2 separate regions of the Homo sapiens genome follow, and region 2 is linked to region 1. Evidence: fine-mapped expression QTL. Tissue or cell type: tibial artery. Region 1 holds a variant in brackets; the other region holds the start of a gene. All regions are shown on one strand. Distances are from middle to middle.

The links. PIP is the estimated chance that this variant, and not a neighbour inherited with it, causes the effect. A credible set is the group of variants that fine-mapping cannot tell apart.
Region 2: it holds the start of PARP3, and the variant in region 1 is the best candidate, but not a certain one, in a credible set for the expression of PARP3 in tibial artery (GTEx, PIP 0.52).

Annotation. Positions count from the first base shown.
Region 1 is chr3:51,976,455-51,980,613 of GRCh38, forward strand. ABHD14A-ACY1 (ABHD14A-ACY1 readthrough) reads left to right here. Exons shown (of 17, transcript NM_001316331.2): 2 at 1,417-1,628; 3 at 1,805-1,920. The coding sequence starts at 1,493. It overlaps ABHD14A (abhydrolase domain containing 14A), which reads left to right. Exons shown (of 5, transcript NM_015407.5): 2 at 1,417-1,628; 3 at 1,805-1,920; 4 at 3,939-4,159. Among named protein-coding and RNA genes, the nearest start is that of ABHD14A-ACY1, 3.5 kb to the left of the region's middle. The variant G/T (reference allele first, on the strand shown) is at 1,986.
Region 2 is chr3:51,939,793-51,943,951 of GRCh38, forward strand. It overlaps PARP3 (poly(ADP-ribose) polymerase family member 3), which reads left to right and starts at 2,571. Exons shown (of 11, transcript NM_001003931.4): 1 at 2,571-2,916; 2 at 3,562-3,746. The coding sequence starts at 3,564. RRP9 (ribosomal RNA processing 9, U3 small nucleolar RNA binding protein) reads right to left here and starts at 2,112. Exons shown (of 15, transcript NM_004704.5): 1 at 1,989-2,112; 2 at 1,617-1,699. The coding sequence starts at 2,075. RefSeq lists enhancers at 1,474-2,122, 2,247-2,576.

The sequences.
Region 1 (4,159 bases):
ACACGAGGCCAGCAGTTCGAGAACAGCCTGGCCAACATGGTGAAACCCTGTCTCTACTAAAAAATACAAAAATTAGCCGGGCGCGGTGGCGGGAGCCTGTAATCCCACTATTCGGGAGGCTGAGGCAGGAGAATTGCTTGAACCCGGGAGGCGGAGGTTGCAGTGAGCCGAGATTGTACCACTGCACTCTAGCCTGGGCGACAGAGCAAGACTCCGTCTCAGAAAAATAAAAATAAAATAAAGATGTGTTTGCTGGACTCCTGGAAGGAAGCAGGCGTGCTCATCCTAGGCCCAAGAAATGACAGGGACAGCCCTGATCCAGTCCACGGTATTATCTAAATCTCACAGGAAGCTTAGGAGGGCAGCCACGAGGTTATCCCATTTTACTGACAAACTGAAGACACAAGGTCAGGAAGTGGCAGTCTCAAAGGCCTGTCCTGTTTGAGTCCTGGGTCCTAAGGGCTGTCCTCTGGGGTGGCAGAGACCCCAGATTGGAGGAGTCCACGAAGCAGTCATTTGGCCAGAAGCTGTCTGTGTGTAGGATGGGGAGTAGCAGGCGGCATTCATCTCTCCAACCTCTACACTGTGCTTTTCATTTCTGGGTGTACCATGCTCCTCCCTGGCCCTGCAGCCCCTCACTCCTCAGCATTTTCCTCTATTACAAGACATTCTCTGTGAGCCTCTTCATAACAGCTGGGTTAGACCTTAGTTATAATGCGATTGTAAAACGCGTTCTGATTTTAGCAGTATTAAATGCAGTGAGATTAAAAGAACCATTTCCAAACATGCCCTTAAGTGGGAGGTCCCTTTGCGCGCAGTCTTTCTCCTTTGATAGCCCTCATCACTTTTTCCACCTGCAAGGCTCCAGTTCATCCATCATCTCCCAGCTCCACGGGTTCCTCCTTGGCAAACCGAGTGTGGCCTGGTAGTTAGAAGCCCATTCCTAGGTTCAAACCCCAATTCCCCCACTTGCTACTTGGCACTTTGGGCAAGAGAATGTACCTCTCTGAGCCTCCATTTCCTCACCTATAAGAGACCTATAATCACGTCTGCTCCCCAGCATTCTTGGTGGAAAAGAACCTTGTATGTGAAGTGCCACACTCAGGGCCTGCTGTCATAAGCGCTTGATGAACGGAAGTGGTTTCAGCTGATGCCATGATGGTGGCGGTCACTGAGCATGCTGTGTGCCAGAGAACACCTCAGATGCACCTCCTCACACTGTGAGGTATCTGAGCGCTTGCCCTGGCATGTGGAGTAGTTGAGTGTGAACTCCCAGAACTTTGCCCAGAGCAAGGGAAAGGGCAAGGGCTGGAGCTCTTCCTCTGCTGGGGACTCTGGGTGGGGTTTTGGGATGGGATCCAGGGTCCTTGTAGGGACTCAGTTCCAGCCTCTTTTCCCTCTCCTCTCCCTCTCCAGACTGTGGTACAGACCTCCATGAGCCGGTCCCAGGTAGCCCTGCTGGGCCTGAGTCTGCTGCTCATGCTCCTACTGTATGTGGGGCTGCCAGGCCCCCCTGAGCAGACTTCCTGCCTCTGGGGAGACCCCAATGTCACAGTCCTGGCTGGTCTCACCCCTGGCAACTCGCCCATCTTTTACCGCGAGGTGCTCCCACTCAACCAGGCACACAGGTAGGTGCTGCTCCAAGGGTCTAGTGGAGGGACTAGGCTCAAGGGGAGTCCCTGTGTGGGACCCCCATTATACTCAGGGTGCTCAGGTCCTGGGAGGGCAATGGGAGAAGCCTAGGAATAAAGAAAGGTGGGCTACACCAGGTTCCCAGCAAACACATTCCCCTGTGTGCCTGCAGGGTGGAGGTGGTGCTGCTTCATGGAAAGGCCTTTAACTCTCACACGTGGGAGCAGCTGGGCACACTGCAGCTACTGTCACAGAGGGGCTACCGGGCCGTGGCCCTTGACCTTCCAGGTGAGCACCCCCACCCCTTTGTCTAGGGAAGCCTTAAGTGTGGCTGGGAGGCAACTGGACCCTAG[G/T]GTCTGGACAGGCCGTGGCAGGTCACAACATAAGGTGGCACCATGAAAAAGTCTGTGTTTTCATTTTCTACTATGAAAACTACAGTGTGAATTCTAGGTCATGGAGCAAATAAAAACTCTTCACAAGCAGTATACTTTCTTTTTTTTTATTTTATTTATATATATTTTTTGAAACAGAGTCTCGCTCTGTCACCCAGGCTAGAGTACAATGGCACAATCTCGGCTCACTGCAACCTCCGCCTCCCGGGTTCAAGCAATTCTCCTGCCTCCGCTTCCCCAGTAGCTGAGATTACAGGTGACTGCCACCACGCCTGGCTAATTTTTGTATTTTTAGTGGAGATAGGGTTTCACCATGCTGGCCAGGCTGGTCCTGAACTCCCGACCTCAGGTGATTCGCCTGCCTCGGCCTCCCCAAGTGCTGGGATTACAGGTGTGAGCCACTGCGCCCGGCCAAGCAGTGTACTTTCTATGGCAAACCATATAGGTTTTGTGTTTTTAAGTACACAAATGATTTATGCTATCATTCTTGTCATTAAAAAAATGAAAAAATGTCGAGTCATAGAGGATTAAAAAATACTAAAAAATAGCAAAGCTCTGAGAGACTGGTGCCGCATTTCTCTCCCTCTCTAAGAAGTTTAGGGGATGCCACACGCTGTTCTGGGTATTCCCACATGTAAAGATGCAGACGATGTAGAGGATTGTCTAGTGGGGGCTGTAAACATGATTGGTATCCTGTCTGCTTAGCACATCCATCTGTAGCTTGGTTTTCTCCCCCTACATCATGTCTCAAGGATCATGCCGGTCCCTACAAACCTCCCTCTTTGTTGTCAACCCTGCAGTGTGTCCCATAGGAGGGATGGACAGGCTTTATTCAGCCATTCCTCTACTGGCGGAGTGCTCAAGCAATATAGTAGCTAAAGCATCCTTGGGCATGCTTCTTTGAGCATGTGAGCAATAATTTCTCTAGGGTAGCTACTGAGGACAATTGATGGGCCAAAGGATGTGTTGTGTTTTGTTTTTTTTTTGTTTGTTTCTTTTTTTGTTTTTTGTTTTTTTTTTTTTTGAGACAGAGCCTCGCTCTGTCACCCTGGCTGGAGTGCAGTGGCTCGTACTCGGCTCACTGCAACCTCCGCCTTCTGGGTTCAAGCGATTCTCCTGCCTCAGTCTCCTGAGTAGCTGGGATTACAGGTGCGCCCCACCATGCCTGGCTAATTTTTGTATTTTTAGTAGAGACAGGGTTTCACCATGTTGGTCAGGCTGGTCTCAAACTCCTGACCTCATGATCCGCCACCTCGGCCTCCCAAAGTGCTGGGATTACAGGCATGAGCCACCGCGCCCAGCTGCCAGGACATGCATTTTTAAATTTAGATAACTACTATCTCACCCTCCAAAAACACTATATGGATTTATCTTCCCATCTGTCATGTATGAAAGTGCCCATTTCCCCATGTCTCCCCCAACACTGGGTATTATTTATTTTTTATTTTATTTTATTTTTTTTTTAGACAGAGTCTCGCAGTCGCCCAGGCTAGAGTGCAGTGGCATGATCTCGGCTCACTGCAGGCTCCGCCCCCCGGGGTTCATGCCATTCTCCTGCCTCAGCCTCCTGCGTAGCTGGGACTACAGGTGCCCGCCACCTCGCCTGGCTAATTTTTTGTATTTTTAGTAGAGACGGAGTTTCACCGTGTTAGCCAGGATGGTCTCGATCTCCTAACCTCGTGATCTGCCCGCCTCGGCCTCCCAAAGTGCTGGGATTACAGGCGTGAGCCACCACTCTCGGCCAAGATATGCTTTTCTAACAGGCATATTACATTACCAGAAAATAGCTTCTGGGCAGTTTTAGGTAGTGTGTGCCAGTGCCAGTGGTCCCCAACTTTTTCCCCCACTGTGGTGGGCAGGAAGTCCTGTGCCCCTTCCCAGTGCCCCTCAGCTGGTACCTGCTGCTGTTCCTAGGTTTTGGGAACTCGGCACCTTCAAAGGAGGCAAGCACAGAGGCAGGGCGGGCAGCGCTGCTGGAGCGGGCGCTGCGGGACCTGGAGGTACAGAATGCCGTGTTGGTGAGCCCCTCGCTGAGTGGCCACTATGCCCTGCCCTTCCTGATGCGAGGCCACCACCAGCTACATGGATTTGTGCCCATCGCACCCACCTCCACCCAGAACTACACCCAGGAGCAA
Region 2 (4,159 bases), 37 kb before region 1:
AAGTGTACAGAGGTTTACCATTTTACCATTACTCTCTGTAGTGCAAATATATCTCATTCACTTTTCTGTATCTAACACACTTCACAACACAACATTCTAAAAATATTTAAAAGCACTTAGCCCACACTAGCCTGGCACACACTCACCCACAATAACCTTCGGATTAAGAAAAGTACATTAATGGCTGGGTGTGGTGGCTCACGCCTATAATCCCAGCACTCTGGGAGGCTAAGATGGGCGGATCACTTGAGGTCAGGAGTTCGAGACCAGCCTGGCCAACATGGTGAAACTCCATCTCTACTAAACATACATAATTAGCCAGGCATGGTGGTGCAGGCCTATAATCCCAGCTACTCAGGTGGCTGAGGCAGGAGAATCACTTGAACCTGGGAAGCAGAGGTTGCAGTGAGCCGAGATCGCACCACTGCACTCCAGCCTGGGCAACAGAGTGAGACTCTGTCTCAAAAACAAAAAAAAAAAGTACATTCTTTCCATGAGCAAATTAAGGCAACACATACTCAATTTTAGAAGCGAGTTCTAAAGTCAACTCATAGGGAAGGCACTAGGATTCTCTGGTCCAAGAGCCTCCAACCCACAGGGTCAGGCCTGACACCATGCCTGACCCTTTGAAAACCTGCAAGCAACCACACCCATCACCTGCAGAAATGAGGGAGGCATCCAAAGCCCTCTACAATCTACATGCACTTATGACCAGTCCTCCTGTTTTTGTGTGTGGTTTTTTTTTAGAGACAGGATCTTGCTGTCACCCAGACTGGAGAGCAGTGCATGATCATAGTTCACTGCAGCTTCAACTCCCTGGGAAGGGATCCCCAAACCTTAGCCTCCTGAGTAGTTGGGACTACAGGTGCACACCACCATACCCAGCTAACTTTTTTTTTTTGTACAGACAAGATCTCGCTATGTTGCCCAGGCTGGTCTCAAACTCCTGACATCAAGCAATCCTCCCGCCTTGGCCTCCCAAAGTGCTGGGATTAGAGGCATGAGTTACCAGGCCCAGCCCCCTTTCATCTTTTCTACTGCCCATTCTGGCACACTTACACCTCAGACTTTCCTCTGATCACTGAATGCCTTCCCTACCTCTCCGTGAGAGACTCCTCTTCATCTCTCAAGACCCTATTTAAATGTCCCTCCTCTGTTCCCAGAACACACAACTATAAAATACACACCTCACTACAACACACTCTCTTCACCCGCCTGCCTATCTCTGCACTTCCAACAGCAAAGGCAGTGCCTGGCATGTTAAGAGACGGGGAGCCCAGTAATTGTGAAATTGCAGGAAAACTGGCAAGGGAAGAAGGATGCAAGAAATACTTGACAGCTTTGTTCTGTTTTCCTGCAATTTCTCAATCAGTCCAGTCCCTGCCAAAACCTAAGGAGGTCTCAATGGCCTCGGATTGGGGCCCAGGGTCCTTCCCACCCAGAGACCTCGCAGAAACAAGACTTTGCAGGACCAGAAACTAAAGGAAACAGCCACGATCTCAGAGCCAAGGGACAGAGTCTTGGATTCTAGGCTCAGTTCTGTTCGGACTCACTCAGTCTTCCGTGCACCATGGGACTCAGTTTTCCCTCCCACTATGTGGAAAAGAATAGCTCACCTCTCGCTCTCAGAGTCGCTGGAGATCTCCTCATTCATCTTGCCGCCACCCTTGGATTTGCCCCTGTCCCCCGCAGAGTCGGCCTGGGAATTATACGGTCTTTTCTTTGGTCAGGGGTCCAGACCACCCTGGCATTGACCAAGGGCCCCCCCCCCTCGGTTCCCTCAGAACCCCAGGAATGGGGAAGGCGGTGGTTCCCGGGTTAAGCGAACGGCTTTCTAGGATTTGGCCCGCGGAGAGAGGGACGAAGCTGACTCCAGCAGGGGTCCAGGGCGAAGGGCTGGGGAAGGGCCGGGACCCAGGTCCCCTGGATGGGATGACGGTTGTCCCAGTAGCAGGGCTGACCGCGGCCCTCAGAAGCGCCATGCTCACCTTTCGCCGCCGCTTGCCGGCCCCCGCGCCAGCCCCGGCCCCAGAGGCCGGCTTTCCCCGCTTACGAGCAGCCGCTGTTGCCGACATGCTGCCCACCAGGCGTGTAGCAGCGGCCGCAGAACTCACGTGGCAGCTGAACCCTCCCAGCTCCCCAGCCGCCTGGCAAGACCCCGCGTATTGATAGGCTTCCACCGCCCGCCGGGCCCCGCCTCCTACTGCTCCATTGGGTCCTTCTGCAGGCTCTGCCACGCCCCCAGGCACCCATAGGATGCACGCTTGTAGCCCCGCCTCCTGAAGTTCCTAGGCTCCCGCACCAGGCTCGAGTAGGAAGCCCGCATCTCCACGGCGCTTCCGGCCTGATGCTGTGGCGCTTGCGCTCTGCTGCTGGCCCACTTCGAAGTCGGAGCAAGAGCCTTCTCTGTGTTTGCGCCCCTTGGCCGCTGGGGGGCGCCAGAGACGCGGCGCCCTTTCGCGTTCTGGAACGTGACTCCTCCCCTCCATGGGCAGCCCGGCGCTAGACCCAACGGGGATCCAAGCAGCCCCGGGGAGAGGGAGGCTGCGTCTGTATCCGGGCCCAAGGTCACCGCGCGACCGGCAGATGCGTGCTGCAGGCCCCGGCCACATGAGCAGCGCTACGGACGCGACTGCCCCGGCCTTGGATATGCCAGATCGAGTGTCCACCCGTCCGTGGGACTGGTCGCCTGACTCGGCCTGCCCCAGCCTCTGCTTCACCCCACTGGTGGCCAAATAGCCGATGTCTAATCCCCCACACAAGCTCATCCCCGGCCTCTGGCGATTGTTGGGAATTCTCTCCCTAATTCACGCCTGAGGCTCATGGAGAGTTGCTAGACCTGGGACTGCCCTGGGAGGCGCACACAACCAGGCCGGGTGGCAGCCAGGACCTCTCCCATGTCCCTGCTTTTCTTGGGTGAGTGTCCTATGGTCCTGCCCACGGCAGGGCAGGGCAAGGCCTGGTGGGACTGGCCTTTGCCCTCTATCAGTTCAAGGCCACTGATCCGGAGTTCTGGCTCCTCAGAACTCTTGAGTCCATTGGGAAGGGCTTCTACAGCTCTGGGTTCTAAGCTCCGGGAGGATAATCTGGCCCCAAGAATCCTGCCCCCAGGATCCTCTGCCCACCCTCCCCCATAGCTCGGTGACTCGGCCCGGCAACCATGCCAGGGCTGAACTAGCTGACACAGGGGGAGGAGCCCCGAAGTGGAAGAGAGAGAGCCTCCTTTCACTTTCCCTACCCCTCAGGACACACAGGTGAGCTGCAGAGGGTAGGGAGCCAGGCAGACCCTGTTGACCAGAGTGGGCAGACTGGACAGAGTCCTAACCTTGCACTTGGGACTGGGGAAAGGGGTGTTTCTGAGTGACAAAGAGCTGGGTGTGGTCTGGGGCTGGGAATGCCGTCAGAGTGGACACAGGATGCAGTGGGAGGCCACCGAAGGGCCAACCCGGGGTGGGGCAAGTTGGTGCTGTGCTGGCCCAGGGCAGGGGTGGGGACTGAGAGTGGGTCGTTGGGGATGAGGAGACCATGGAGGCCTAAGGGCCTCTCTGTGCCCCAGGACAGCCATGGCTCCAAAGCCGAAGCCCTGGGTACAGACTGAGGGCCCTGAGAAGAAGAAGGGCCGGCAGGCAGGAAGGGAGGAGGACCCCTTCCGCTCCACCGCTGAGGCCCTCAAGGCCATACCCGCAGAGAAGCGCATAATCCGCGTGGATCCAACATGTCCACTCAGCAGCAACCCCGGGACCCAGGTGAGCTGCAGTCCCCAGTCAGGCCCAGAGCCTGCCCACTGATAAGCACAAACACACCCAGGCCACCCCCTTAGGACTCTGTTCTGGTTTTGGAGCCCAAGGCCCCCAGGTAAGCGCCAGAGCAAGGCCATGTTCTCCTGACCCCAGACATCAGGGCTGTGTCCCGTCAGGTCCAGGCGGGTCACATCTGCCCTTCAGACCCCATGCAGGCCTCCTCCCACCGCACTTAGGGAAAGGCTGTGACTACATCAGTCTCCTGGGCGCTTGCCCATGTCCCCTCAGGGCAGAGCCATGTCCCTCTCAGATTCCCCCATCCAGGGCCCAGCTGTGTCCCCCCCAGCACCCCCCATACCTCCATGTCAGGGTTTAGCCATGTCCTCTCACACCGCATCCCCTAGGGAAGAGCAGTGACC